3 separate regions of the Homo sapiens genome follow, and regions 2 and 3 are each linked to region 1. Evidence: fine-mapped expression QTL. A gene starts in region 1. Each other region holds a variant in brackets. All regions are shown on one strand. Distances are from middle to middle.

Region 1 (10,577 bases):
AGACCCTTCACATCAGCATTTGAAAGTGCTCAGGTCTATTCCAACATAAAGTACTTTCCTTGGCCTCCAGGTCTCCCTTGACTTTGCCCCTTCTTTGTCCTCCCCTTTACAGTCAAATGACCTGAAAACGTTGCTACAGACCGAATGTTTGTGTCCATCCCAAAATTCCTGCTGATGAAATCATAACGCTGATGTGATGCTATATGGAAGTGGGGACTCTGAGAGGTAATTATGATGGGATTAGTACCCTTATGAAGAGAGAAAGAGAAAAGAAATCCCTGCCACCCACCCCTTACCAGGTGAGACTACAACAAGAAGGCAGCCACCTGCAAGGCAGGAGGAGGGCATGCATCAGAAACCTGGCTGTGCTGGTACCCTGATCTCAGACTGCCAGCCTCCAGAACTGTGAGAAATAAATGTTTACTGTTTAAGTTACCCAGTCTATAGCATTTAGTCATGGCAGCCCAAGCTAAGACAAAAGTGTATATACTTCTAACTCACTCTAATCCGACTTCAGCTTCCACCACCTCTCCAATAAGTGACATGATCAGTGCCCACCTTGTCTTGAAAACCAAAGGTCATTTTCAATCACCTTGCTTGATCTCTGTGCAGCAATCAGTCCAGTTGCCTCCCCAGCCCCCACCCCCATGGATGCGTTTCTTGGCTTCCTGACATGATGCCTTCACTGTGGCCTTCCTACTTCTCTGGCTGTTCCTCCTGGCAGTCTCCCATACCAGCTTCTTCTCTGCTAGGGGGCCTTTAACCGTCTGGTATTCCTCAGGGGTCTAGCCCAGGCACTCTGCTCACTCTCTCTTCCAAAGTGATGCTACTCACCTGCACTGCTTCAATTGACATCAATCTGTCAGAAACTCCCAAGTTACACCTTTAGCCCACAACTTCTGAGCTCCAGACCCACACTGCCAATTACCAACCCCATCTCTCTCCTTGAGTGTCTCACTGACCTGGACCAACAAATTCAACATAACATATGCTAAAAGGAATTAATGACCTTGCCCTCCAAGACAAACATTTGCTCTTTTCCTAGTATTTCCTATCTCAATAAATGACACCATTAATAGTCCTTAAGACATGTAACAGGGAATCATCTGACTTGTCCTCCCTCACCCCCCATCCTTAGCTAAAAATTTACTTTAAAATTGCTGTCACTTATATGGCAACTATCCCTTAATAAAAAATAAACAAAAAATCCAATTGTTTCTGCTTCATAAATATTTCCTGAATTCATCTACTTCACATCATCACCTCTTACATGGCTATTATAATAATATCCTTGCTGGCCTTTCTACAACCACTGTCACTGACCCTAGGGCTTTGTTAGGTTCCTTGCTCTCACAACACTCTGTGCTGCTTCTTAGCAGGTCCTACAATAATTACAATCCACCTTCTAAGGACCTAATTCCACCTTTAATGTCTGCCTGCACCTCGGAACTGCAAGCGCTGTCAGGGCAGCGCTCTGGGATTTCTATTAACTGTTCTGGTCTGGCTTCCCAGCCCTGGGCATGGCCCTCTATTGTATTGTGCCCACTGTTGAAAGAATGAGCACATTATCCCCTCTCCCCATGTATCTAAATCCTTTCCACCCTCTATAGCCCAGCACCAATGTCTGCTCCTCTCTCGGTTCTCCCAAACTATTGCCATTCCCATCACGGCACTCACCATGTGTTTCCCTGCATCATGATGTTCCGCCTGGATATGTCACATCTTCCACAGAGAATATAAGCTCTAAAAAACAGAAAGAATAAAACAGACATAAACATGTTTCCCAAACTGCCAATGCTACAAAATATTTCTGCAATTACCATAACACTAATTTTGTAGTTTCCAATACACTTAGCCTACAAACAAAATTAAAAGCATGTTGAACTGTGTTAAAGTTTCCAACTAAATTTTTAATGTCCTTAAATTTTAAAATGTCATTATTACTAGTTTTGCCAACTCAAAACTATCAGCAGCTAAAAAGACTTATAGGCATAGATCATCTCTAATTTGTTAAAAGACTTGGGAAAAATATCATTTCCCCTCTCCCCCTTCATACTCTCGTTTCCTTCATGGTAAAAACAGGTAGGCATAGGCCGGGCATGGTAGTTCACGCCTGTAATCCCAGCACTTTGGGAGGTCGAGGCAGGTGGATCACGAGGGCAGGAGGTGGAGACCATCCTGGCTAACACAGTGAAATCCTGTCTCTACTAAAAATACAAAAACTTAGCCGGGCGTGGTGGTGGGCGCCTGTAGTCCCAGCTACTCGGGAGGCTGAGGCAGGAGAATGACATGAACCTGGGAGGCAGAGCTTGCAGTGAGCCGAGATGGCGCCACTGCATTCCAGCCTGGGCGACAGTCTCAAAAAAACAAACAAAAAAAAAAAAACAAAAAAAAAAACAAACCATGTAGGCATAGACCAAACACAAAAATCACAGTGAGACCAGCATTCAAATTCAAACATAACCAGAATCTTGTTAACACACCAGTTAATGATTCTTAATTTTCATTCTCAGTTCCTCCCACATAAAAACACTGTAAACATGAATGATTTTCCAAATACTTGAACTTCAGCAAAACATTTTTTAAAAACTCACATAAATATTGAGTACAAAAAGCTGTAACATAGAAACATTTTCTGAAAGTCTTTCTAAAAGTCTCATCAATAGAACTTTACTATGTAGACTTTCAAATGGCTCATGAAAATAATTTCAGATTATGCTAGCAGTCAGTGTGCTTAATAAATAATAGGCACCAAATAATATCTGATTTTTTTTTTAAGACACAAAGTCTACTCTGTCCCTAAGCTGGAGTGCAGTGGTGCAATCATAGCTCACTGCTGTCTCTTACTCCTGGGCTCAAGCAATCCTCTCACCTCAGCCTCCAAAATAGCTGGAACTACAGGCGTGAGTCACTGCGCCTGACTCCTTATTACTATTATCCAGTCCAGTACCCTCATGATAAACCTGGGGCCCGGACAGGTGCTCCTGCCACCATAGGCTACTCACTGCCAACAGAATCAAGTTCAACCTCTGTGCTTGGCATTTAAGGCTCTATTGACTCTGGACCCAGGCTTGTTCTCCAGTACCTTCCCCAGAAAGACCCTACTACCCCATGTTTTCCCAACAGATTACCATTCGAGTACAAAGAACCAGCTAGTTCTTTGCTCCCGTTCTCCTCTCTAAAATCTCCCACCCTAGGCAGAGGTTGCAGTGAGTTCAGATCGCGCCATTGCACTCCAGCCTGGGCAACAAGAGCGAAACTCTAGCTCAAAAAAAAAAAAAAAAAAAAATCTCCCAACGTATGAATCTGCCCAGTGATTTTCTATCCATCTATCAATCTTAAATGCCACCTCCTCTATGAAGCCCTTCCTGATTCCCTTAGGTAATCCCATTCCCTCTAGACTTAGTCTATACTTAATCCTTTTACAGCACTTACCAGAGACTGCCTCATATCATAGTGAAGTATGCACACGTCTAACTCTTCCACTAGATTATCAGCTCCTTGATGATATGGGTTGATTCACAGTCATTTCTGTATCCTTCACATCCCCGGGAAAAGCAACCTACACACAGTAGGTGGTCAATAAATGTTTACTCTCTCACCAATAGTATGTTTCCATGTTGCTACTGTACATTTCCCTTCCATGTACCTCCGCAACAGAAAGCAGGCCTTTTCACTGAGTCATGCAATATTTAATGAGCCCATAAATGGGAAGCACTGTCCCAGGCCCTGTAGACTCAGAGATAATAAGACACACAGCCTGTAGGATTCAAGGAACTCAGAACCCACGTACAAGTAAGTGTTTTAAAAATACAAAATAATGCAATAAACACACAAAAAAGAGGTATGTGCAGGGCTTAGGGGAACACAAAGGTGTGTGCCGCACCTAGAGGTGGGCAAAAGTCAGGGTCACGAACACTCTTGTACAGTGTGTAACAAGAGCTGAACATTCACTGCCAGATCCTCATGGATGTTTCAGTAGTTAGAAAATCTAAAAATACTAATCATGAAATTGACCTATTGAAGGCATAGTCCGGCTGTGTTGTGGATGCAGACTTTAATTCAAAAGTCAAGGAATTCACTGCACCTGGAAAAGTAACTCTCTTTTCTCCGTCTGTCTCTTCTCGGTTGCGGTTTGGAAACAGAGACACTGAAGGAGCTGTCTTGAATAGTTAACACGGCCAGAACGTCAGTGCATGTAAAAAGAATTTTAAAGTGTGACTACATTTTTATTGAGAACTCCCTCTTTCCCCAGGTGGATCTGCAGGGCAGTCACCTTCATCCTGATCCATAACTGCACATTTACTGTTTGCATCTCCCGCCAGACGGTACGCCCCACGAGGCAGGCGCTGAGCTCAGGATCTCACTCCCCTCCGAGAGCCGGGCGGCCCCAGGCCTGGACCATAGTGTGTGCTCCACAAATGAATGAAAGGTCTCCTTTTTCACTTCCACTTATTTGCGGGATCCAGGCCTAGCGTCGCTCTTTTGCCCTTAGCTGCAGATCTGAAGTGGGGCTGCCCGACCCCAATTCCCGGACGCTTTTCACCCCAGCCCCGGAGACTCCAGCCCCGTTTAAATCCTGACACTCGGAAACTCTCTTCTAACACTTGCAAGGTACCCCTTTTACCTATAAAAGGCTCTCGGGCCGCGAGATCGCCGTCAGAGCAAAGCCAGGCTACTACCGCAGGTACCAAGACAGTGGCACCGCCCGCGCCTCCGGAACAGGAAACCGAGGGAATTAAAAAGCAAACCTGAGAAAGCTGGGCCAAGGGAGGGAAAACTCTTCAGCCCACCGCAGGGCCTTGTGCGCGGTGATTGGCGCGTCAACGAAAGCGATGGACGTCTAGACCAATCGTCAGCAAAAGACCCTTTGGAGCCCGCGCCCCCTCCCCCTACGTCCTCCAATCCGAAAACGCAACCGGGTGAGGGAGCGCTTCCGCCCGGAGAGAGCTGGCCGGGATGAGGCGCCGGCTTTCCCGGGTCTTCTCCAGCTGCCACCGCTTTACTGCAAAACTGACGGGCGCAAAAACATGAGTGACTCCGCGGGAGGGCGCGCTGGTCTCCGGCGTTACCCCAAGCTCCCAGTGTGGGTGGTGGAGGATCATCAGGAGGTGAGCGGACGGCAACAGGGCTCTGGGGCAGAATCAGCGGAAGCCCTGACGCTCAGAGGGCCAAGCAGAGGGCGCAACCTTAGCATCGGAGGCCAGAGAGTTAACCAGAGTTAAACTGCCCTATTCCGTTGCTGTGGAGAGGACCCCAAAACAGCTAACTAGGAAGAATGAGAACTGACATTTATGGGCGCTTCCTACGAGTCGGGGCAACTTATTTACCTCGGTTTGCCCCCAAATCCCAGAACCAAACAAAAGGTGGCATCGGGATTCGAAACCGGACAGTCTGGCTGCAGAGCCCTGTGTTCTTAACCTGCAGTTAACTCTGGCTTCCAAGTATCTCCTGGAATCGCCACCACAGCCCTGCTGTTTAGATGGGAGGCTTTATGCTTGGAACGTGGGCTCTGATCTGAAATGGGGACAGTAATCGTAGGACTCACAGGGCTCTTAGGAGTATTATTGTGTGCATACTGTGTTTAAAAATCTTTTTTTTTTCTTTTTTGAGACGGAGTCTCTCTCTGTTACCCAGACTGGAGTGCAGTGGCGCGATCTCGGCTCACTGCAACCTCCGCCTCCTGGGTTCGAGCGATTCTTCTGTCTCAGCCTCCTGAGTAGCTGGGATCACAGGCACGCATCACCGTACCCAGCTAATTTTTGTATTTTTAGTAGAGACGGGGCTTCGCCACGTTAGCCAGGATGGTCTGAAAGTCTGACCTCACGTGATCGGCCCCCGCCGGCCTCCCAAAGTGCTGGGATTGCAGGCGTGAGCTACTGCGCACGGCCCATATTGCGTAAAAAAAAAAAAAAATTTAACACGGTGCCCTGCATAGATAAACACTAAAAGGGGTTTCCATGTTTATGGCCGTGCTGATTTACAGTAGCCAAATTGGTGTCTTAATCTAGACTTTTCCAAGTCAACAAAGGAGGCCCATGGATCTAATAAATATGTTTTAAAGTAGCATCAGTAGGCTTGGGATGGGAGGCAGTTCTCTGGACGTTAAAAAAGAAGAGGGATTTACTGTTGGTGACAGCTAATAGGAGAGGAAGATAGGTTTCTCAGGACCTGGATATAGTGTCTATGACCTTGAGAGAATGAGAAAGCCTAGGTTAGACGGTGCTTTCAAATTAGGTATTAAACCTAGAATTAGAGAAGATGTAAGAGGAGAAATGGCCTTTATAGACCACCTAGCCCAACCCCACCATTCTAAGTGTACCAAAAAGACCCTAACCAGCCTGGACAGCAGAGCGAAATCCCATCTCTACAAAAATAGAAGTGAAAAAATTAGCTGGGCGTAGTGGTGCGTGCCTGTAATCCCAGCTACTCAGGAGACTGAGGTGGGAGGATCGTGTGAACCCAGGAGTCCAAGGCTGCAGTGAGCCATGATCACACCACTGCTTTCCAGGCTGGGCAACTGACAAGCCCCTATCCCTTTTTAAAGGAAAAAAAAGAATACTTTGAGACCTAGGGTACCTTGAACACCTAGTTAATGTTAGAACAGGCATTAAGCGGTAGTTTGTTCCTGAGCCCCAGTCCTGGTCTGTTTCCCCACATGACCTGTTGAGTTCAAGGGGGCAGCAGGAAGGCCGCTGGAGATGCAGGTTGGAAGTTCTGAGGACAAAGTAATGCTTGAGATTATCATCTGCACCATCTACAGTAAACAAATTTTATGTTTTTCCACTTTACAGCAACATAGTATGCTTTCAATTATGTGCATTATTTAGCATTGTTTTTCAGTCTGCAGTTGAGTGTGTGCTCATGGTTTCAGTGTTAATTCTTATTGTGTGCCTGTGTCTTTTACAGGTTCTACCCTTTATATACCGGGCCATAGGCTCAAAGCATCTTCCTGCCAGTAATGTAAGTTTTTTACATTTCGACTCACATCCAGACCTCCTTATTCCTGTGAATATGCCAGCAGACACCGTGTTTGATAAGGAAACACTCTTTGGGTAATATGTGATTTTATTTATGGTCTTTTGTGTTTGAAGTACAATTTGCAGTAGATAATAAGCAATTATAGGAAATAGACTTTGCTAAACTCATGGGTTTGGGGGTTTTTTGTTTGTCTTTTTGTCTTTTTCATTTTATTTAGAACAAGTGTTGACAACTTTCTTAAAGAGCCAGATTAGCAAATATTTTAGGTTTGCTGGCTATATGGTCTCTGTTGCAACTATTAATCTTTGCCTTTGTAGTGTGAAAGCAATCACAAGCACTGTGTAAACAAATGACAGTAGCTGTGTTCCAATAAAGCTTTATTTACAAGCTGGGCATGGTGGATGAGCCTGTAGTCCCAGCTACTCAGGAAGCTAAGGTGGGAAGATCACTTGAGGCCAGCAGTTCCAGGCTGTGATCAAAGCCTGTGGATAGCTGCTGCACTCCAGACTGGGCAACATAACCAGACCCCATCTCTTAAAAGAAACAAACCAAAAAAACTTTGTTTACAAAAACAGCCTAGCCAATGTTTAATCCTTTTAATATTTGCCTTTATAGAGACCATTGGATTCTCACGTCTATTTCTGCATTTAGTCCATTGCCATATGCTGTTTTGGTTGAAATATATGATGAAGATTCAGGCTTTCACAGGCATGTAATTGGAAAAGGAAAGAATATTTTGATAGCCTTTTTAGATAATTGTGAATATTCTTTGATAGTGCGCCAAAACTTGAAAAGTAGTAGTTTATTAAAGCTTATTTGAAATGTAGAATTCAGCAATTCAGTATCAAGTGTGAATAACCATAGTTTCTTGACCACTCCTTTCAAGATAAATGGTGTTCACCTCAAAGTTCAATCACAAGTGCTTTTCCTTGAGACAACTGTTATGCTTCAAACTATGTAGCAGGAGAGCTTTCTGTGCATTTCTCATTTTGCCACACATAATATTTAAAAATGTATACTCAGGATGGAAATTTAATAAAATCAAGATGTTCTCGAATGACACTTTTATATTTATTTATTTATTTATTTTGGCAGTGGTTGGTAATGAAGAATATAGTAACTACTAACAGTTTGGTGCTGCTGCCTTAATTAATGTTGGAACATCAACCCACCAGTGCCTTTGCACCATCTTTGCAAATGTCAGTAAATGAAAACAGGAAATAATGCCTTAGTATTTTCATGAAAATAGTTTTGTAATAGTGATGTCCCTGAAAAAGTCTCAGGAACCACTCTAGGGACCACACTTTGAGACCTGTGGTCTTAAAATGTTGTGGATAAAATTACACTTGGGAAAAAATAAAAATAAAAGTTTTAATGTTGTCTCTATGTTTCTTTTCCAGAGAATTAAGTATTGAAAATTGGATTATGCCTGCAGTTTATGCTGGCCATTTTTCACATGTAATATGGTTTCATCCCACATGGGCTCAGCAGATCAGAGAGGGCAGACACCACTTTTTAGTAGGCAAAGACACTTCTACCACAACAATCAGGTAATTTCCTCATATTTGTGAATATGGAAGTGATTGAATGTTTCTATCTTATTTTGGATTCCTATAATAACTTCATAAGTCTCTGCACACAAATAGGGTCAGATTAAGCCTCGACTTCTCCAAAGAGTTCTCAAAACACGAAGAACAAACTTTTAAGTCTCTTGATATTCTTCATGTACCATTTATATTTAGTTGCTGGTCAAATTAGATTTTGAATGTGATCATTATCCTCCGGAATTTGGGCTTCATTGGTGATTAACTCCTTAAGCCATTGAAGTATCTTATAGATTTATACATTCAGTAGTACATTTTACTGTTTCCTGTCAGTATAACTGTTGTCTGCTGAATTTGCCGCAGTGGCTCACGCCTGTAATCCCAGCACTTTGGGAGGCCGAGGTGGGCAGAAGACGAGGTCAAGAGATCGAGATCATCCTGGCTAACATGGTGAAACACCGTCTCTACTAAAAATACAAAAACAAATTAGCCGGGCGTGGTGGCAGGCGCCTGTAGTCCCAGCTACTCAGGAGGCTGAGGCAGGAGAATGGCGTGAACCCAGGAGACAGAGCTTGCAGTGAGCTGAGATCGTGCCACTGTACTCCAGCCTGGGCAACAGAGTGAGACTCTGTCTCAAAAACAAAACAAAAAACAAACAAACAAAAAAACAGTAATTAGCAGTGAAAGGGCAAAATTATCTCACTTTGATTTTTTTATAAATCCAACTGCTGAATAAGTAGATTTGGGGCTTTAATTTTCTTTATAATATAATTAGTTTCAGATAAGTACTTAATCTAAAGTAAATTACAGTATCCTCTGACTTGAGATAAATATGCAACTGTTTTTATTGTATAAGCTATTTAACAATGTTTTGTGTATCTTGTGATACTATAATACTTTCAGAAATATCAATATGTTCTTGACTTTAAAATTCTCTTGTGATGGGATAAATATTTTAAACAGTATAGCCATAACTTTCTAGAACCTTAAGGATAATGGAGTGAAATGGTAATACGTTGAAAATCAGATAGTCTTCCTCATTGAAAATGATACTTTATTTCTAATTTATTCTTAATGATACAATTAACTTTTGTAGTATATAATCTTGTCGTTTGCACAAATAGCTTTGTTGTGATATATGAAAATTGTATTTATTTCAGATATAATTCAAAAGAAATAATTAAGACTCAGCATATAAATATTGTACATACTACTGGTATATGTGAAATAGTAGTAGGGTTTTTATTGAGTACTTCAGTGAGTAGGCCTGATTTAACCTACAAAATCAAATAATTTTCAGCAATCTGACACAGACATTTGAAACTCCACGTGTGATTAACAATTTTGGAAGATTTTGATTCATGACTTTGGTTAATCCTGCAAGTAAAAATGTATGGAAGAGACACATATACATGTTGGTGTGCAGTTTGACAAATACTTGCATGTTTGTATGATAGGAACATGGGAGAACTGCTGTTATTAAAAAGAATATTAATTTAGGTTGGGGGATACAGCTTCATCTTAGGGTTGTACAGTTTTAATAAGCTTGGACATTAGTTTTACTATGTCATTAATCTATTTTTGGAAAATAGCTTTTACAGTTTATAGCTGTGTATGCTGGGAGAGGTCAAGTGGGAAATAAATATTAACCATGATTTTAGGTGGGTAAGGCATGCCTCTAGAAGAAGTATTTGGCTTCACTGTTTGAAGTATTTACCAAGTCACCTTTCATACTGAGAATATTATGGTTATATAGAAATTAACAAAGCTCTAAAATATGTCAGGGGGAGTTTCTATTAAGAGAAATTATTTCCAGATGAAATTTTTCTCTTCAATGATTTTTTGGATAAAGATTCAGCTGGTATGAGAGAGAACAAAGGAACACTGGCTTAAACAAGAGAGTTTATTCTTATATTAGAATTCACTGTACACAGTCCAGGCCTATGTGGCAGCTCTAGAGTTTGGGGAACCCTAGTTCCTTCTACCTTTTTGCACCACCGTCTCTAGAATATTGCCCCTGTCCTTATAGTCCAGGGTGGCTTGCCACCTCTG
Region 2 (10,577 bases), 49 kb before region 1:
AAGAGTACTTTCTGTTGGTCAGAAAGAGTACTGTTGGTCAGAACTACAAATTGGTATGTCCTTTCTAGAGAAAACTTGGCCAACATCATTCTGAATTTAAAATGTACATACTATCTTAACACATAATTTCACTACTAGAACTCTACCTTACAGAAACAAACAAATGCAACAGGATAGACACAGACTATTTCTGAAGCATTTATACAAAATGGGGAAACAATGGAGAACTCCAGAATATTTGTCACCATAGGAATTATAAACAAATTAATGTCCATCCATACTATAAAATGCTAAGTATGCATCAAAGAATGAAGCAAAGCATTTACAGTACAGAGAATGCCTGAAGTATCTGAGTTTAAAAAAAAAAGGAAGTTGTGTAACATATTGTTATTCCACTTGAAGAAAAAAAGCATAATTCTCCTTAAAGCAGTTAAAACAATACAAATCAAGCCATTTACAGCATTTACCCATTTTCACATGTTCAGAAGGAAGTGTTCACTGTTTTTACTTTACATACTTTTGTATTGTTTGTATACACACACATACACACAGAGTCAACTCAATCAAAAGCAAAAGCAACACTTCAATTTTCTAAAGAAAGAAATTGTTCTTTTCAATAAATGGTGCTGGGTCAATTGGATACCCACGTTGAAAATACTGAGTTTTGACCCATATCTCATACGAATTGTGAAAACAAATTCAAGACTGATTACAGCTCTGAAAGTGAAGAAAATATAAGTGAGTATCTTGACTTTAGGGTAGGCGAAAATTTCATAAATATGATACAAAAAGCTCTAATCATAAAGGAATATATATCTATAAATTGGACTACATAAAAATTAAGAATTTCTATTCAACAAAAATCATCAAGAAGATCAAAAAGCAATCTACAGAGAAGGTATTAGATATATATATATTCATGACATTTATATTCATGTTCTATATTCACTATATATAACATATATTCACTATATATCTGTATCTGTATATTTGAATAGCATATGTACGTTCACCAAAGACATGTACGTGTTGTTTAGTGAGCATATATACATATTTTTCTGTTACATATATACCATACCAGGTGGAATTCTGGCTGTGTGTATATTAAGCTTTGTAGACACTTTCAGTTCTCCAAAGTGACTGTACTGTTTTACCTTCTCATTAACAGTGTATGAAAATTCAAGTTATTTCACATTCTCACCACTTGGCATTTATTTTTTCTTTGTCAATTTAGCCATTCTGATGTGTGTTCAGAAGTATCACATTGTGATTTTAATTTGCATTCTCCTAATGACTAATAAAATGGAGCACTATTTCATATATTTATTAGGTACCTAGATAGTGTTTTTTTTAAAGTGCTCATTCAAGTCTTTTGCCCGTTTTTCTATTGGCAATGTCAGTATATATATATATATATATATATATACTGAAAATACTCAAATGTCCATTAATCATAGATAGGTTTATTTTAATTTAGTCATCCCATATAATACTATATAGTAGTGAGAATGAGCCAACTACAGTTAAGTGCAACAGGATATGATTCTGAAATACATTAAACAAAAGACAGAAGCAAAACAGAATATAAAATTCTAGTTTTTATAGTTCAAAAACAGGTAAAACTAATACATGGTGTTTCAAGTCAGAATAGCGGTTACCCTTGAGGGTCTCAGCAGCGACTGGAAAGGGGTCCGAAGGGGGTTCTTGGAAGCTACTAATCTTGATCTGGGTGCTGGGTGGATGGTCATATTCACTTTGTAAAAACTCACTAAGGTCCTATATTCATGATCCATGCACTTTTCAGTATTTATGTTATAGTTCAACCAAAAGTTTACTTTATAAAAATGAGAGATAATACCAAAGACTATTTGAAAAGCACACTCACTAGTAACCAAAAACATGAATACTTAGATAAGGCATTATTATGACCAATTAAATAAAATCAGTAAACAAGCATTTACTGCGTCCCTGCTATGTGCCATGAAGTATGTTAGCACTAGTGATACAACAAGACAGACAAATGTTTACTCTTCAGCCTCATGGAACTCACCACTGAAATTTTTTAAAAGGAAGAAAGAAAGGAGAGAAGGAAGATGGGAAAGGCAAAATGCTAAAAATGAATAATAATGCATTTTTCATGGCAGCACAAACTGATGTTATTCTTTTGACAAGAAATTTGGCACTATATATCACAATCTTTAAAAATATCCATCTGCTCAATGAATTATTAAAAAATAGATGCAAATCATATACTAGTAGATGACAACTACGTAAAAAAAACCCTTCTGCACAGAAAAAAATGAAAATATATATCAAAATGTTTTTTTTTAATTCACCATTTTCTAAAAGATCTTTAACAAAGTCACATTATGAATAACAAATCAACCGTAATTTCCTATCTAATACCAAAATGCATTTTATACATCAGGTATTTTTCTGTATCCTTCGGGGTCTTCTTAGTATGTATATTTTCAAAGGGGAGTCTAATGAAAAGGTAAACCCTGTTTAAAAACAAATCAATAGACCTTTTTCTTTATGACAACCTAAATGTTATCCCCACATAGTTACGTGAGAGTTGAAATCTCACAAAGTAAATATCCAACAGCAGATTTTTCTTTAAGGTGATTTTAAAACTGCCCACTTTCTCTCAGACATCTGTTTGGTCATAAAACGCCTACAGGAAAGTAGATATAGAAAGGAAAAGGCTTTTCAGCAAATTCACTCTAACACCATTTTCTAATAAGTTTACTGTTGAAGCTCCATTCTAAAATCAAAAGATTCATTCACCAGAAGAGAAGAAACGGCATCTCAATAAAACAAAACCAGATATAAAAAGGAGAAAAGCCTTTGAATGCATTTCTAAACAAAATAAACATGAACAGTAATACTAAAAATCTGAGTAATGCTAACCTAAAATAAACTAAGCCATTTTGACTGCCTGGACTGAGGAAAGAGTATCAGGAAAAAATCTTGAGAAAAATCTAAACCAGACAGAGTAGACAAGAAACTAAAGCCACACAAGAGGAGTCAAAGAGACAGGAGGAAAGTAAGGAGCACCCAGGCACCAGAGCAGGGAAGAGACTAACACTGAGGCACATGCTCTGCACTTGGTCTGTAGGAGGCTGCCTCTGGCATCGGCAGCTACAGTGGGCTAGGGACAGTTAGAGAGGGTCTGGCACTGAAGCAAAACTTGGCTGTGAATGGACAAGGGCACTGGAGGAAGCCAGACTCCGACAGGCTCACTGCAGGGCTCTCAGGCATGAGGGAGACAAGGGCTCCTGCCCAAGGGAGACAGGGGCTTCTGCCCATGGGAAGACAGGAGGCATAAGGAGGACAGCACAAACACAGCACTGAAATTCTTTAACTGCTGATATTGGGTGGAAAGGTTACACGAAGAAAAGCTCCCCAACCAAGATTATAGACCACAGATTTATAGCAGCAGCTATGTTTTACTCTTCAGTATTACTGAGTGGCCCATATATAGAAGAAAAGGCAAGCAGTTGGATTGATGACATTAACTCGGAGATGATGGCCATACAGGCAGCTAAGACAGCTAGAACTGACAGGGTAAACATCAGAGCACAGGACCTGGTGGGGAAGGCAAAGGAAAGTAGCCATACATAAGGAGAAGAGGGAAGATCCAAGTAGATGCAAAGGCAATAGGGACATGAGAGGCTAGACTGAAGGATGTCACCAGAAAGTGAGATAATGGAGTCAAATTCTAGGGAGAAATTAATGTAGGTTGGTGGCATGGTCCAAGGTTTTATCTTAAGATTAAGCGGCTGAGTGGTGACAATCCTTACAGTAGAAAAAGTCAAATAATTATATAGCTCAGGGTAGAATGGTAAGTGAAGTTCACCAGGCTGGTAACAGAACCTTGTGGAGAGAGGAAACTGTAAGCCAGGTTTCACAGCATTTGATAAAGCAGGTAATTGACTAGGAAATAAATAAAGAAGGAGTGGGAATAGGGTGCCAGAAGCCTCAAGGAGAAAGATTTGCAAACAAAAAGGCAACCAAAAGATTTCATTAAAAATACTTTTTTTTTTTTTTTAATTTTTAGAGATAGGGCCTTGCCATGTTGCTCAAGCTGGTCTCAAACCCTCACTGGGCTCAAGCGATCCTTCCTTCTCAGCCTCCCAAATAGCTGAGACTATAGGTACATGTCACTAAACTGACTCCAAGCATTTTTAAAAACACTAAATATAATGCCAAATATTACAGGTGGATTCTTTTTAAAAAATTAGAAAACAGTTAAAATATTGCTTTAAAAAACTGTCATATATTTCCCTATATTTTATTGGGAGAAAAAATTATTTTATACCTTTTTTTCACTGTAAAATGAATTCAAGCACATGTCAAAAGATAAGAAAAAATCACTATAATCCTACTACCTTAATGTAACTATTATTACAGTAATTTTTTCAGCAGTTATAATCATATTGCATTTAAATTTTTTTATTGTTTTCCAATTAGCCATATGCATTTTTTAAGCCACAATCATTTCTCCACATTAACACACCCGCATGATATTTTGTCAAGTAGATTTCTAAAATTTATAAATCTGTTCTTCCATTGTTCATCTAATTTGGACTACCATAATTTATGCAGGGATATAAATCCACATGTATAATTTTACATTTCCGTGCCTAACCTGAGAAGTAGATAATTAACAGTATCGAAGGTGGGAAAGTTGTCCCTGAAGACTGAAAGGAAAATGGCAAGCTTATTTTCAGATGCACTATCTCACCAGGTCACTGACAAGCCAGAAGATTTACCTGGAAGAAATCTTACAAAACGTGGCATGAAATGAAATCTTGGGCAGCAGGGAGGGCTGTCTTCAAACAAAGGACCTGAAGCAAACAAATGAGAAAAAAAAAAAAAAAAGAAAACTCAGTCTTAAAAAACAAGCACTGCAACTTAATTTCTAAGATTTATGATAACCACAAAAACTACCACCAGAAGTAGAGGCATAAAAATTACCACCACCTCCTGCCACTCCTCCTCAGTGGCTAAATCAATCATTGGTAACTGCCACAAGCACCCAAGGAAGACTGCAATGAGGAGACTACAGGAAGGCAAGAAGAGGATGAAAGCCCCAAGTAGCAAATACATACAGTAAAATTATTTTTAAAATTCAAAACTATCAAGACTTATTATAATTGAATTACTGCATGATATAATGTGACTATGTGTTCATTCTTTCCCATTTTAATCACTACACTAAAAAAAAAATGTTGAGAAATGCTATCAGTTTGAAAAGCCATTCACCAATAAATAAGTAACTGTTTGCTAGAATACGGATACTTCCAACCGCTGGGCGCAGTGGCTCACGCCTGTAATCCCAGCACTTTGGGAGGCCGAGGCAGGCGGATCACGAGGTCAGGATATCGAGACCAACCTGGCTAACACAGAGAAATCCCGTCTCTACTAAAAATACAAAAAAAAATTAGCCGGGCGTAGTGGTGGGCGCCTGTAGTCCCAGCTACTCGGGAGGCTGAGGCAGGAGAATGGCGTGAACCCGGGAAGCGGAGCTTGCAGTGAGCCGAGATTGCGCCACTGCAGTCCGCAGTCCGGCCTGGGCGACAGAGCGAGACTCCGTCTCAAAAAAAAAAAAAAAAAAAAAAAAAAAAGAATACGGATACTTCCAAAAAAGTAAGCTACTATCCAAGAACCAAGCATCAAGTCTTTGAATCTATCTAGTTCACTCTAAGTGTCTGCGTGTGTGC[A/ATGTG]TGTGTGTGTTTTAATGACTAACCAAAGTTTTGCATCTTAGAAGATTTATTACAGCAAAGTTTACTAGATTTAAAATATTAACTAATGGTAATTTCCCAGGTACACATATATCAAGGTAGCTACACATAATAACTGGTACCATCTTCAAGCCGCTACCAGCTAATAATAAGCCCTGTCAAACTGTATAAAGTAAAATCCATAGAAACTTATTCATGTCAAATGATAACAAGCATTCCTGTGAATAACACTTTTCTCTGGGTATTTAAAAAATAAGAGAAATTTCAACTATCTCCCTACAACTTTTATAAGAGTTTTCACATATACCATAATGTTCTTCCATAAACACTACTCTCTTCTTTAAATCCTATTACTTACCTTTAAGATTCCAGTCATATAATTCCAAAATATCTCTGAATAGGAACAGTGAAAAGAGTTCAAGCCCTTTCACACAAAAATTCTGAAAAATAAACCAAAATTAAATTACTGTAGTTTGGCAAAATATACATTAACTGAAGGTTCAACTTGTTCTTGTCAAGTGTCTTTAAAAGTGTCTGTTAAAACTATACTAAGACCATATAGTTTCCTGAAGAGTTTGGCCACTGATCGCTAGTTTCAGATGGAAATGAAATAGACAATAATGCCACTAGGATTCCTTAATGTCAACTTAGCCCTTCTCAGTATACAAATAAAATAAGAAATTCAAAAAGTAAAGTCTCACTTATATTAATATATTTTTCTAATTCAATTATAAACTGTGTCAGAATCTTCTGAGGATGTTTTGTTAATTCAGATTATACATATGCACCTGATAGGCTTGTCCCCCACCCCCGCCCCATACATCCAGCATAATTGTCATGGAGTTACCAAAAAACAGAGGTCCTGTGTACCCAAAAAGTTCAAAAAGTAATGAATGCAAATAAAGGGCTAAGAAAATTATACAACTCTGCACCAAAATTTCTCCTGTAAACAAGCTAAACAGATATATTTGCAAGTGAGACTTATCTCATAATTCTTCCTCCTACTTGTTTTGCTCGGAGTTCATAAATCACCCTGCGTGAGATCACGCCAGAAGTCATAAACTTTTACAATAGCAAATGAAGGCATATGACCTTAAAAACCAAAAGGAAGTTAAAAAAAAAAAAAAACCCTTCTAAAGCAGGAGAATGAAGGGGTGGTTCTTTTTCTTTAATTCTTTTTGAAAGGAAGGTACAATAAACAACACTTGCTCAGAATGAAACAGGTGCCAACTAGGCACACATGTGATGCCGATCAATTTCCCCCTCCACACTCCCTGCCCATGACAGAGCTGTCCCATTAAACAAGGTTTGCAAGCAGAGCCAGGGGCTCCGGAAATTGACCCTGACTCCAACACAATGTTAAGTGCACAAGCTTGTTTGCTGTCTAGTTGTTATTTCTTAGTATGATTTGTTGACACCACTAAATTCAAGATCAGACTATGAATCATTCTGAGATTCACATTAATCTTCCTTTGGAATTTTAAATCTCTTGCATATATTGAGATAAATCTGCTGTTGAGCACTCGCAATGAAAAACAATTAGGAAAAATATGTAAATATATGGGAAGAAAAATGAACCAAGCATTGATCTTGTCATTGGAGATAACGAATAAGATTATTACAACAGCTATCAGATTGTTTCACTATTCCAATTTCCCCTCTGATAATGGCCAGTAACCAAAATCTGTCCCCTACGTAAAAGAAACTAGAAACAGATGTAAAGTTAATATCAGCAGACGTAACACAAGGAGAAAGGGGTATAAAAACAGGTCAACAAGTTGAAAATTGGCCTGAATTTTAACCTTGATACTAGAGCTACATTTCACTGACTCTTTCAACAGTGAATATGATACTTTAGAGATATTCCTGGCAAAAGCCAGATCTGGCCAAGTTCAATGCTTTAAAATAGTAGTATGGAACAAGCAAAAGAGCAAACTACATCAAACCACACACAATCTTTTCCCTTACCTCCGGCATCATCTCTTCAATGAAATGAATCGTGTAGTCTATGTTGAATCTAATTACTTTACACAGTGGAATCTGCAATAAAAAGAAGTGAGGTTCAGTTCCCCAACGTCTCCCTGCAGGCTCATATTATACACGTTTGTTACCTGACCCAAAAGGCCATGAACCAAATGAGAAGGCTTCACCTTCATCTCAGCGGCTAACAACACTGCACATGAAGCTTGACCACAACTGCTGGATTTTAATGACAAGAACCCAGCTGGCCTGGCCTCGCCAAGAAACCTGCATAATGTGGTGCTTAATTAACAGTATTAGCAGCAGCAACACAAACATGACAAGAACCCATTAAAACCACAAGTATCACCTCTAAAGAATTAATAAAACCATAACCATAAACATTTCTGTTTCTCAAGTTTTTAAAATATTTTAGAATCTCTGGCTCCTTAGGCAGATCAGGGATAGTAGGGTGATAACTCATCAATTATGGATTCATAGGTCACTGAAAACACCCAATTCATGCTGCCCATCTGGCTCTTAAGCAAAGGCAATTGTGGTAATAAATATAATAATAACAAATGATAATAAAAATAATAATAGCTAACATTTTTTGAGCCAGGCAGTGTCCCAAATGCTTCACAATATTCATTCATGTAACCATCACAACATCCCTATAACATGGGTTTGGCTACCATGTCCACTGAACAGTGCAGGAAGCTAAGGCAGAAGAGTCATCAGGTACCATGCCTAAGATAACAGGTAGCTTGGTGAACTGCGAAGTCTTTCTCTAGACTCCAGCTCTTAGCCACTAGAGTATACCCCTCTCATTACCTGTTCTAATACTCAAGATACATGTGAAAATGAAGGAAGGCTCAGCATAAAATAAATCCACATCTATCTTACTTTACCAATGTATCATCAGACAATTGCCTACTGCCTACACATAACAGGTTTTCCGTAAATATATTTTTGAATGAATTAAAGAATGAAAAAGGGAGGGAGATTACTGCAGAGAATTGGCTGGCTAGCTGGGGAAAATAACAGACCCAGAAGTCCCAGAGACGCGTTAACTGAGTTTTTCTGGCTGCTTAATCTGTCCATAAGATGATTTTATACAGATGTAATCATTTTCATAAACCACAGCAATCAGAAAGAAACAAATTTTAATTCTATCAGTGAAAGGGATGGTAAGAAAAACAGAAAAATAGTCTTATAATGCCATCTACTGGAAATCCTTTTCTCAGATACAAAGTTTAGTTCTTGGGGGCTTTTCCTTTTTATTCTAAAGAATAGTGGTTAATTTGAGTGAAATTCATAATAGCCATTATCATTTTTAAGTTCTACTTTGTTCTTATAATCATTTAAAAATATTTAAGAGTTACAAAATTTTGCATGATTCAATGTATTTTTAAAATACCTATTCTTTGCTAACAACTATATTAGGTTCATAGGTACTCTAAAATAAGCTACGGGTCCTATCTTAAGAGGTAAAGATGTGTAAGAAGAAAGGCATGTAAGTAAATACAAAAAGAATACAATGCAATGTAACTTCTAAGTTCAATTAAAAAACAAACAAGCAACAAAAAAAGTATAAAGTATAAAAGAACCAAAGAGGAGGTAACATATGAGTTGTCTTCAAAGATGAGGAGGGGCCGGGCACGGTGGCTTATGCCTGTAATCCTAGCACTTTGGGAGGCTGAGCAGCGTGGATCAACTGAGTTCAGGAGTTCAAGAACAGCCTGGCCAACATGGTGAAACCCCGTCTCTACTAAAAATACAAAAATTAGCTGGGCGTGGTGGCGTCTATAATCCCAGCTACTTGGGAGGCTGAGGCAGAAGAATCACTTGAACCCGGGAGTTGGAGGTTGCAGTGAACCAAGATCATGCCACTTCACTCCAGCCTGGGCAAAAGAGCAAAACTCTATCACCAAAAAAAAAAAAAAAAAAAAAAGATGGGGAGGAATTTTCCAGGTCATCTAGAAAAAGTTGAGGCAGAGCAGGTGTTTAGCTTCTAGAAAAATGGAGGAAAGGGAGCTGAGGAAAGAAGTAGTAATTTCACAGTTCAGATAGAAGTGCGTGGAGAGAGAGAGATGCCAGATGATCTAGAGAGGAAAATATGAACTCTATTATGTAGCCCTTACAAACCATGTTAAGGTCAGGGCTTATGGATATATGGCAACGAGAAATCATTCAAGTACTTTAAGTTACAGATTATCATCATTTACATTTCAGATGAGACACTGTGGAAACAGTGTGGGAATGGCTTGTAAGGGAACAAAGAAGACCAGACTGAAGTCTAATGCAATAGTCCAGGAGCCAAATGAAGGGAAGACTGGAAAGGAAGAGAAAAATTTTAAACACAGGAGATATTACTGAAATATACAGTGACCATTCTGATGTGGGAGGAAGAGTGAAGAAAGAATTGAGGATCATTTCTGGGTTTCTGGCGTAAGTGACCAACTAGGTCACTTAATTCAGGAGGGTGTCCCCTTAGTACCTCAAATTCAATATGCAGGGAAGATGACGAGTCTAGTTTCACACAGGTTGAGGGTAAAGTATCTGAGGAAACATCGAGGAGGTTCATTTCAAAAGGCAATCTAAAATGTGAGAGTGGAGTATTAATACAGAGGTACATGTCACAGCTATTAATATTGATCTGGTGGGGATCAGAATATGCATGGGTGGAAATGAACTACTCAGAGAGTAAACAGGAGAGAAAACAACCAGAGCTGTTGGGAATTCTCAAGAGATAGGCAGAAAGCAAATGTGCAAACTTTCTTCCTTGCTATCATAGGAAAAAGCACTCTGCTAGATGATTTATGCACGTACAGTCCTTTCTCCATTTCATTTTAAGTAAAATCACTTCTTGGA
Region 3 (10,577 bases), 33 kb after region 1:
TATTATAGAAAAAAGATCCTATTTATAATACCATAACTTCAAAAAAAACTATTAGTAAACAAAATAAAAAATTATTACCACCTATACAAATAAAACTTTATAATATTACTAAAGAATAAAAATGAAGACATGACCATCTATGAAGAGAATAATAGTGCTTATATAAGACGATTCAATATTATAAAGGTGTCACTGCTTCTTATATCAAATTCTAATGTTTATAATTTCCATAAACATACCAAAGGAGGTTTTATTTTAACCAGTGAAGCTGATTCTAACATTCATACGGAAAAATGATCATGCAAGGAGAACCCAAAAAAATTGTGAAAAACGAATGAAGTTATTAACTCCTACTAAGTACTAAAATACATTATGAAACTATGTAAATTAAAACAGCATAGTATGGGCATATGAGCAGAGAAACTGACGAATGAAACAGAATAAGGTCCAGAAATAGACCTATATTAGAGTAAGGACATCTGATTTAATAAAAAGTAACTAATGTCTCATACAAAGTGCAAGTTTATTTCTCATTTTCATGAAGTCCAGAATGTGTTTCTGCTCAGCAGACTTTCCTCTTCACAAGGATTCTGGACTCAGGCTCTTTGCATCTTTGGCTTTCCCATCCTTAACATGTGGTTTTCAAGGTTTTCTTAGAGAATATCTCTAATCCACCTAGCAAGAAGGCAAAGAGGATGGGGCATCTTTTGGGAGGCTTTTATCTGCCAGGCCTATCAGTTCCTAACTGCAGGAAACCTGGGAAACGTAACCGGTTGTATGCCCAGATGGAAGAAAGAGCAGGTTTGGAGAACACCTAGCTTTCTCTCCCACAAGACCCAAGTACATACGGAATTTGGTATACAATCCAGGTGGCATTTTATATCAGTGGGGAAAGATGAGTTAGGAAGTTGCATTCCCAATTTACTCCTTACAACAAATTAATTACAATTGAATCAAATTTTAATAAAGTGAAAAAGAAAAGAAGGAAGGAAACTTTCTAGATCACAGGAGAAAAGGAAAGATTCTTAATAAATAAGCATGCTTGGTTTTTTGTTTGTTTGAGACAAGATTTCACTCTGTCACCCAGGCTGGAGTGGTGTCATCATCACAGCTCACTGCAGCCTCCACCTCCCAGGCTCAAGCAATCCTTGCATCTCGGCCTCCCAAGTAGCTGGGATCGCAGGTGCGTGCCACCACACCCAGCTAATTTTTTTTTTTTTTTTTTTTTTTTGTAGAGATGGGGTCTCACTGTGTTCCCCAAGCTGGTCTCTAACTCCTGGGCTCAACTGAACCTCCCACCTTAGCCTCCTAAAATGCTGGGATTACAGGCATTAACCACCAGAGCCAGCATGTTTTTTTCTTTTCTTTTTTTTTCTTTTGTTTTTTGAAGATTCAAATGAATATGGGATTCAAGATTGTGTAGCATGACCATTCCAGGTTTCACAGTCCTACTGCTTCCCTTTCTGGGCCCTGAAGTTAACATAGGACATCTGCCCTGGCTGTGAATTTGGCATCCGTTGCAGTGCTGACATTTTTATGATTATATTCTGAGTCTAATATGCATCATACTCTGCACTCCTGCAACAAGAGATGAGGATCTAATTAAAGTTGGCCATGAAAGCCTTTGGCTTTCATAGCATGCCCTGAGTTGATAATTGGCTTACCTGCTGTTCTCTGTGCTATTCTCTTCAAGGACTCCAGAAAAGTTTACAAAAGTCAGCCACCTCCACAATCCTTCCCTAGCCGAGTGCTTCCCCTTCTGCCTGTACCTCATCCTAAACAATCATTGGTGAAATTCTTAGTAAACATGCTAAGCCATGGGCTATCACTTCCCCCACTTAGACCAGCAGTGAGGTTCTTGTTGCTCCTGACCGGGGCATGAGCAAATTCTCATATCCCATTCTGAGGGTCTCCTTTATAGGACCAGCTCTAGTACCATCCGTCTTAGTTTAGGTTTCCCCAAAAGCAGACATTAAGGCAAGGATCTGGGTGAATGTAGTTTATTTGAGAGGTGATAGCAAGAAGTGAAGGAGTGGGGAAATGAGATAAGGAAGGTAGCAAAGTGATTAAAGGATGTACTAACAAGATTACTGCTTTAGCCAACAAGAGCTCAATTTCACTAGGATCCCCAGAAGAATTGGCAGGAACATGCTTCAGAATTGCCTGCTGAGACATGGGAATTTTGCACATTTATCCGTTGGTTCTCTTTCCTCTTTGGTTGAGGGTTGTCTCTGAGAAGCTGATAGGCTGTTAATTCCCAGCCACCCTGGGAAGCCCACCCTTGGATGGGCTAAGCAAGTTCCTGTGACACCTCAAAATGACTCAGGAAAAGAAGCAGAAAGATACAGACACATATTGGATGCTGTCAGGATGGGCAGTAACCATCCTCTGCAGGTAAACTTGGAAGGGAGATGGAAATACTGGATGGGACATCTGCAGCATCTGCTATAGCAAGAATTGAGAGGCCATTTCTGTATTCCTTTCTGGCAGTTTTAAACCGAGTGTGTTCCTGAAGGTGTGGGAAAACAAGCATGCTGATATATTATTGTTAAAAATACATATTGGTACAGCCTCCAGAGGGCACTTTGGTGGTAGCTATTAACATTGAAGTATACTGCATACACTTTTAAATTCAGATTTTAGGAATTTCACTTCTAGGAATTTATCCTGCAGATACTTGTGCAAAGACTGACACCACCTTTGCAAAGATTCTGACAATGAGAGAAACGTGACATGCCTGGCTCCGTCTTGCTTCTAGCCTCACAGGCTGTTTTTGCTCATTCCTGAGTGTAGGCCAAGCTAACCATGAGAGGAATTTAGTTTACAGCTTAACTTGGAAGCAAGGATGATAATAGTCCCTCCCTACAACTAACCTCCTCCTTGCTCAGGGACCAAAAACTAATGAAAGGCCACGAAATTAGCATTATGGGAGGGGACAGAATTCTGCTAAAATGTGGGCATAGTTTTTATAATCCCCTACTGCTCAGGAGTCGTGTGGCCAGAGGTCACAAGGTTTGTGACTTCCTCAATTGCTCCTATAGATAACAACACTATTGTAGAACCCAAGACTGGCTTTTTTTTTTTTTTTTTTTTGAGATGGAGCGAGCTCTGTCGCCTAGGCTGAAGTACAGTAGCACAATCTCAGCTCACTGCAACCTCCACCTCCTAGGTTCAAGCAATTCTCCTGCCTTAGCCTCCCAAGTAGCTGGGATTACAGGTACCTGCTACCACACCCAACTAATTTTTATATTTTTAGTAGAAATGGAGTTTCATCATATTGGCCAGGCTGGTCTCGAACTCCTGACCTCAGGTGATCCACCTGCCTCAGCCTCCCAAAGTGCTAAGATTACAGGCATGAGCCACTGCACCCGGCCCCAAGACTGGTCTTTTGAGATGCTTTTCAGACTTTTGCATTCTGGCAACTGACCCCATCCAGACTCGTGACCTATGACTCAACCAGTCCTGTGGCCCCACACCCAGAAGAAGGCTCAGTGCAAAAGGACCATTTTCCACACCCCTATGATTGCATCCCCAACCAATCAGTAGCATCCATTCCCTAGTTCCCTGCCCATCAAAGTATCTCTCAAAAACCCTAATCTTCAAGCCTTTGAGGACACCGATTTGAGTGATAACTCCAGTTCTTCTGCTTAGCTGCATTAGTCTGGTCTCACATTGCTATGAAGAAATACCCAAGACTGGGTAGTTTATAAAGAAAAGAGGTTTAATTGACTCACAGTTCTGCATGACTGGGAAGGCCTCAGTAAACTTACAATCATAGTGGAAGACAAAGGGGAAGAAAGGCACCTTTTTCAAAGGGCGGCAGGAAGAAGTACCAAGAAAAGGGGCGGAAGCCCCTTATAAAACCATCAGGTCTTGTGAGAACTCACTCACTATCACAAGAACAGCATGGGGGTAACAGCCCCCATGATTCAATTACCTCCCACTGGGTCCCTCCCACAACACGTGGGGATGATGGGAACTACAATTCAAGATGAGATTTGGGTGGGGACACAGCCAAGCTATGTCATTCTGCCCCTGGCCCCTCCTAAATCTCATCTCCTCACATTTCAAAACACAATTATGCAGCCGGGCACGGTGGCTCATATCTGTAATCCCAGCATTTTGGGAGGCCAAGGCAGGTGGATCACCTGAGGTCAGGAGTTCAAGACCAGCCTGGCTAAATGGTGAAACCCCATTTCTACTAAAAATACAAAAATCAGCTGGGTGTGGTGGCACATGCCTGTAATCCCAGCTACTCAGGAGGCTGAGGCAGGAGAATTGCTTGAACCCAAGAGGTGGAGTTTGCAGTGAGCCAAGACTGCACCACTGCACTCCAGCCCGGGTGACAGAGGGAAACTCTGTCTCAAACACACACACACACACATACACACACACACACACACACACACAATTATGCCTTTCCAACAGTCCCCCAAAGTCTTAGCTCATTCCAGCATTAACCCAAAAATCCAAGTTCAAAGTCTCACCCAAGACAAGGCAAGTCCCTTCCACCTTTGAGCCTGTAAAATTGAAAACAAGTTAATTACTTCCTAGATAAAATGGGGGTACAGGCATTGGGTAAATATACCCATTCCAAATGGGATAAATTGTCCAAAACAAAGGGGCTACAGGCCCCATGCAAGTCTGAAATCCAACGAGGCAGTAATTAAAGCTCTGAAAAAATCTCCTTTGACTCCATGTCTCCTATCCAGGTCATGCTGATGCAAGAGGTGGGCTCCCATGGCCTTGGGCAGCTCTGTCCCTGTGGCTTTGCAGAGTACAGCTCCCCTCCTGGCTGCTTTCAT[C/T]GGCTGGCATTGATTATCTGTGGCTTTTCCAGGTGCTCAGTACAAGCTGTTGGTGGATCTACCACTCTGGGGTCTGGAAGACAGTGGCCCTCTTCTCTCAGCTCCAGTAGGCAGTGCTCCAGTGGGGACTCTGTGTTGGGGAGCCAACCCCACATTTCCTTTCTGCACTGCCCTAGCAGAGGTTCTCCATGGAGGCTCCATCCCTGCAGCAAACTTCTGCCTGGATATCCAGGCATTTCCATACATCCTCTGAAATCTAGGCAGAGGTTCCTAAACCTCAATTTTTGACTTCTGTGCACCCGCAGGCCCAACACCACATGTAAGCCACCAAGGCTTGGGGCTTGCACCCTCCAAAGCAATGGCATGAGCTGTACATTGGCCCCTTTTAGCCACAGCTGGAGCTAAAGCAGCTGGGATGCAGGGCACCATGTCCTGAGGCTACACAGAGCAGGGGGGCCCTGGCCCAGGCCTACAACACAATTTTTCCCTCCTAGGCCGCTGGGCCTGTGATGAGAGGGCTGCCACAAAGATCTCTGACCTGCCCTGGAGACATTTCCTGCATTGTCTTTGCTATTAACATTCAGCTCCTCATTACTTATGCAAATTTCTGCAGCCTGCTTGAATTTCTCCCCAGAAAATGTGTTTTTCTTCTCTATCGCATCTTCAGGCTGCAAACTTTCCAAACTTTTATGCTCTGTTTCCTCTTGAATGTTTTGCTGCTTAGAAATTTCTTCTATCAGATACCCTAAATTATCTCTCTCAAGTTCAAAGTTCCACAGATCTCTAGGGTAGGGGCAAAATGCCACCAGTCTCTTTGCCAAAGCATAGCAAGAGTCACCTTTGCTGCAGTTCCCAATAAGTTCATCATCTCTATCTGAGACCACCTCAGCCTGGACTTCATTGTCCACATCACTATCAACATTTTGGTCAAAACCATTCAACAAGTCTAGGAAGTTCCAAACTTACCCACATTTTCCTGTCTTCTGAGCCCTCCAAACTGTTCCAACCTCTGCCTGTTACCCAGTTCCAAATTCACTTCCCCATTTTTGAGTATCTTTATAGCAGCACCCTACTCTCTTCTGTATTAGTCCATTCTCACACTGCTATGAAGAAATACTTGAGACTGCGTAATTTATAAAGAAAAGAAGTTTAATTGGCTCACAGTTCCGCATGGCTGGGAAGGCCTCAGGAAACTTACAACCATGGTGGAAGGCGATAGAGGAGAAGGCACCTTCTTCACAGGGCAGCAGGATGGAGAAGTGCTGAGCAAAAGGGGAAAAGCCCCTTATAAAACCATCAGATTTCATGAGAACTCACTCACTATCATGAGAACAGCATGAGGGTAATCACCTCCATGTTTCAATACCTCCCACTGGGTCCCTCCCATGATATGTGGGGATTATGGGAACTACAATTCAAGATGAGATTTGGGTGGAGACACAGGCAAACCATATCATTGGCCTTGCATTAAACTTTCTTTACTGCAGTACCACAGTCTCAGTGAATTGCATTTGTCTGTGCAGCAGGCAGGAAGAACCCATCAGGCAATTGCAAGACTTTTATACAAGGATTTTCATTGTGACAGTAAAAGACTGGGGAGGAAGGTCTTTCAACAGGGACTGGTTAAGTTATCAGACATCCATATGGTGGTACCCTTACCACCACAGAAGGGGGCTCCTCTCTGTGTACTGATATTGAAAATTCCACCAGGAGGAAGAGAAAATATAAAATGATTAATAGTATATACAGGATGCCACTATGTATTTTCTTTTTCTTTTTTTTTCTTTTTTGTGTGTTCTAGGAGGCAAGGATGTATTTTATTTTTCTTATAACTTTTCTGTCATTCCTAGGGATTTGAGATAAGAGGGGGAGGCTCCAGGGTATGATTAATCTACCACATGATAGATTATGAAACTAATATGATGAAAACTTACAAATAACAACAAAGTTCAACAAGGTGGCTTAGATAGCAGATGGACATTCATAAATTAGTAGTTTTGTGATACACCAGTGATATGGTTTGGCTGTGTCCCCACCCAAATCGCATCTCGAATTGTAGTTCCCATAATCCCCGTGTGTCATAGGAGGGACCCAGGTAGTTGTCATAGGAGGTAATTGAATCATGGGGGTGGTTATCCTCATGCTGTTCTTATGATAGTGAGTTCTCATGAGATCTGATGGTAAGGGGCTTAAGAGTGCCCTTTGCTCAGCACTCACTCTGTCCTGTCATCCTGTAAAGAAGGTGCCTGCTTCTCCTTTGCTTTCTGCCATGATTGTAAGTTTCCCAAGGCCTCCCCAACAATGTGAGACCGTGAGTCAATTAAACCTCTTTCTTTTATAAAATACCCAGTCTCAGGTATTTCTCCATGGCAGTGTGAAAACAGACTAATACAAATAGCAATAGATGGAAAATGTAATGGAAAAGAATTCACAACAGAACCTAAATAATAAATATAGAAGATCTTTACAAGGAAAAATGTAAACTTTATGAGATGTAGAAGAAATCCAAAATTAAGAACATTATTGGTTATAGACGATAAATTTCAGTATTTTAACATGCCAAGCTGGGTGCAGGGGCTCATGCCTATAATCCCAGCACTTTGGGAGGCCAAGGCAGAAGGATCACTTGCGCCCAGGAGTTTGAGACCAGCTTGGGTAACATGGTGAGACCCTTTCTCTACAAAAAATACAAAAATTAGGCCGGGTGTGGTGGCTCACGCCTGTGATCCCAGCATTTTGGGAGGCCGAGGCAGGTGGATCACTTTGAGGTCAGGAATTCAAGACCAGCCTGGCCAACATGGTGAAACCCCATCTCTAATAAAAATACAAAATTAGCTCGGCATGGTGGCACACACCTGTAATCCCAGCTACTCAGGAGGCTGAGGCAAGAGAATCATTTGAAACTGGGTGGCAGAGGTTGCAGTGAGCCAAGATCATGCCATTGCACTCCAGCCTGGGCAACAAGAGTGAAACTCCATCTCAAAAAAAAAAAAAAAATTAGCTGGGTGTGGTGGTGCATGCTTGTAGTCCCAGCTACTGGAGAGCTTGAGGTGGGAGGATCACTTGAACCTGGGTGGTGGAAGTTGCAGTGAGCAGAGATCATGCCACTGTACTCCAGCCTAAGCAAAAGAGAGAGACTGTCCAAAAAAAAAAAAAAAAAAAGCCAGCTCTCTGCAAGTTGATATGTAAAATGTAATCCCCAAAATAACCCAACAGTCTTTAGCATACAATTTGGCTAGCTAATTCAAGAATTCATAAGTAAGGCTAGAAGTGTATGCGTGTATGCATAGCTTAGACAATTTTAGGAGGAAAAAATGGGAGAAACTTGCCCTGGCAGATATCAAAGCATGTGTTTAATATTGTTTAAAATGTCATATTGATGCATGAATAAACAGACAAAATTAATGAAACACAATGAAGACTTCAGAAAAAGGTTTCCACATACATAGGAATTTAATATCTAATAAAGGTTGAAATTTATCAGTGGTGAAAGGCTGGACTACTCAAGAAATAGTATTGGGAGAATTGGCCATGCATTTAGAGAAAAAAAGGTTGGTCTCTAACTCACACTTAATAAAAATCAATTGCATATGGATTATATATCTCAGTAAGATTATAAAAGTATTATATAAAAACATAGGAGACTGTGTTTATGACTCTGGGGCAGAAAAGCCTGAATTAAGGAAAGTTGCAAGGGAAGAGATTTGCATAACCATGTCTAAATTTAAACCTTCTGTAAAAACCTAAAGGCATAAGCAAACTTAAAATATAAGTATTAAAAAAAGTGCAAACTAGAAATAAATATAACATATAACAAAAAATTTTAATTTGGATATATATAAGAATAAGACAACTCAGCAGAAAAATGAACAGACAAGGTGAACTGTCAAGTCACAGAAGAGAAAATATAAATGATCAGTAAACAAAGAAATAAATTTTATTCTCCCTAGTCATGTACAGACATGTAAATTAAAGTAAGATGTAACTTCTCACCATATAACTGGCAAAGCATTAAAAAATGTTGGTAATACTAATCAAGAATGTGGAGAAATGGTACTTTCCTACTAAAACTGGAATAAATTACTTCAGCTTCTCTGAAAAGCAACTTGGCAGTAACTCAAAATAGTAACTATTCTCAGTGACCCAGTGATTCCATTTCTCAGTATCTATCCTATGGAAATACACAAATATGTATTTGAGGTGGCATGCACAAAGATTTTTTTCTGTATAGTTTGTAGTTGAAAAAAAGTGGACAATAACCTGAACATTTACCAATACATAATATAGCAAAGTTTAGAATGTGTTCAATAGCATTGCATTTATGAAAATATAAAGACCTCAAAAACTATATTATATGTTTGTACAGGTACTTACATACACAAGTGTTGGGGCTCAGAAACTGATGCCCCAAAGTATGGTGCTTCGGCATGCTGAGTGCTTTTCACTAAAGGAAAATCAAGGTCTGTCTCCCCTCCTTCCCTCCCGAAGCGCCAGAGTATGGCTTTCTCTGAAGTTGCTCTAGAAGGAATACAATTGTGAGTCCCTCCCTATAATCTCATTGAACAGGGAAGATTAACTCACAGGAAAGGAGCCTAAACACAGGCCTAAAGTATTCTTTCGAAGACTGCTACCTGGAAGACTATCTGCATTACAAGAAAACCTCTGCCAGACATTTTCAACCTTAACCTTCCATAATTTGATGCCACCTCCCCGCCCCTGGAAACCCCAAACTACTATTTCTTTCTGTAGCCCAAAATGCTATTTAAGCTTCAGCCATCTGGTCCTTCTTTGAGTCTCATAGTTTGTGGGACTCCCATGCATATGCACATAATCAATCTGTACGCCTTTTCTCCTGTTGATCTGTCTACTGTCCAATTTATTCCAGAGACTAAAATTATCAAACCTTCAGAGGGTGGAAATAAAGTTCCCTTTGCCCCTGAACATAATTTTATATATATATATATATATATATATATATATATATATATATATACACACACATATATATATACACACACACACACACACATACATACACACACACACACAGACACACACACATATTATTTTATTTTATTTAACTTTATTTTATTTTTTGAGATAGGGTCTTACTCTGTCACCCAGGCTGGAGAGCAGTGGCACGACCTACAGCCTCAACCTCTCTGGGCTCAGGTGATCCTCCCACCTCAGCCTCCCAGATTGCTGGGACTGCAGGGGCAGGCCCCCATCCCTGGCTACTTTTTTATTTCTGTATTTTGTAGAGATGGGGTTTCACCATGTTGCCAGGCTGGTCTTGAAATCTCGGGTTCAAGCATCTGCCCACCTCAGTCTCTGAAAGTGCTGGGGTTACAGGCATGAGCCACGGCACCCATCTTATATACATGTATATATATATTTTTTATTTTAAAGGATATTCACTGTTCAGGGTGATAGCCACTAACTGTATGTAGCTATTTTCATTTACACTCAAATTAATTTAAATTTAATTTAAAATTCAGCTCCTGGTCTCACTAGCCATAATTCAAGTGCTCAGTATCCACACATGGCCTGTGGCCACTGTATTGGGCAGTACAGACATAAAGCCCTTCCAGTATTTCAGAATATTCTATTGAATGCTGATCTCAACTCTTAGTAAAAATCTATAATCTTCCTTATCAAAGAGGGCTCCATAAACCTGGAGCATCAGCATCACCTGAGCACTGGTTAGAAAGACAGAATTGCAAGCCCCTCCCAAACTTACTAAAACCAAAGTCTACATTTCAACAAGATCCT

Alleles and levels. Alleles are on the strand shown, and positions count from the first base shown. SD is a standard deviation of normalised expression in the study named. Not every link is listed here.
As copies of ATGTG replace A in region 2, the expression in adrenal gland of the gene that starts at base 4,939 in region 1 goes up (moderate effect, 0.70 SD a copy in GTEx).

The links. PIP is the estimated chance that this variant, and not a neighbour inherited with it, causes the effect.
Region 2: its variant is fine-mapped to the expression of C5orf22 in adrenal gland (GTEx, PIP above 0.99). The same link has a PIP of 0.9 or more in cerebellar hemisphere.
Region 3: its variant is fine-mapped to the expression of C5orf22 in tibial nerve (GTEx, PIP 0.93).

What each region holds. Positions count from the first base shown.
Region 1 is chr5:31,527,363-31,537,939 of GRCh38, forward strand. It overlaps C5orf22 (chromosome 5 open reading frame 22), which reads left to right and starts at 4,939. Exons shown (of 9, transcript NM_018356.3): 1 at 4,939-5,111; 2 at 6,910-7,055; 3 at 8,382-8,531. The coding sequence starts at 5,031. It overlaps DROSHA (drosha ribonuclease III), which reads right to left and starts at 4,731. Exons shown (of 36, transcript NM_001382508.1): 1 at 4,628-4,731; 2 at 4,088-4,163; 3 at 3,436-3,562; 4 at 1,678-1,743. The coding sequence starts at 1,697. RefSeq lists enhancers at 4,811-4,980, 5,011-5,060, 5,111-5,160.
Region 2 is chr5:31,478,779-31,489,355 of GRCh38, forward strand. It overlaps DROSHA (drosha ribonuclease III), which reads right to left. Exons shown (of 36, transcript NM_001382508.1): 14 at 7,713-7,784; 15 at 6,103-6,184; 16 at 4,776-4,850. Among named protein-coding and RNA genes, the nearest start is that of DROSHA, 48 kb to the right of the region's middle. The variant A/ATGTG (reference allele first, on the strand shown) is at 5,727.
Region 3 is chr5:31,560,612-31,571,188 of GRCh38, forward strand. No RefSeq gene overlaps it. Among named protein-coding and RNA genes, the nearest start is that of C5orf22, 34 kb to the left of the region's middle. The variant C/T (reference allele first, on the strand shown) is at 4,806.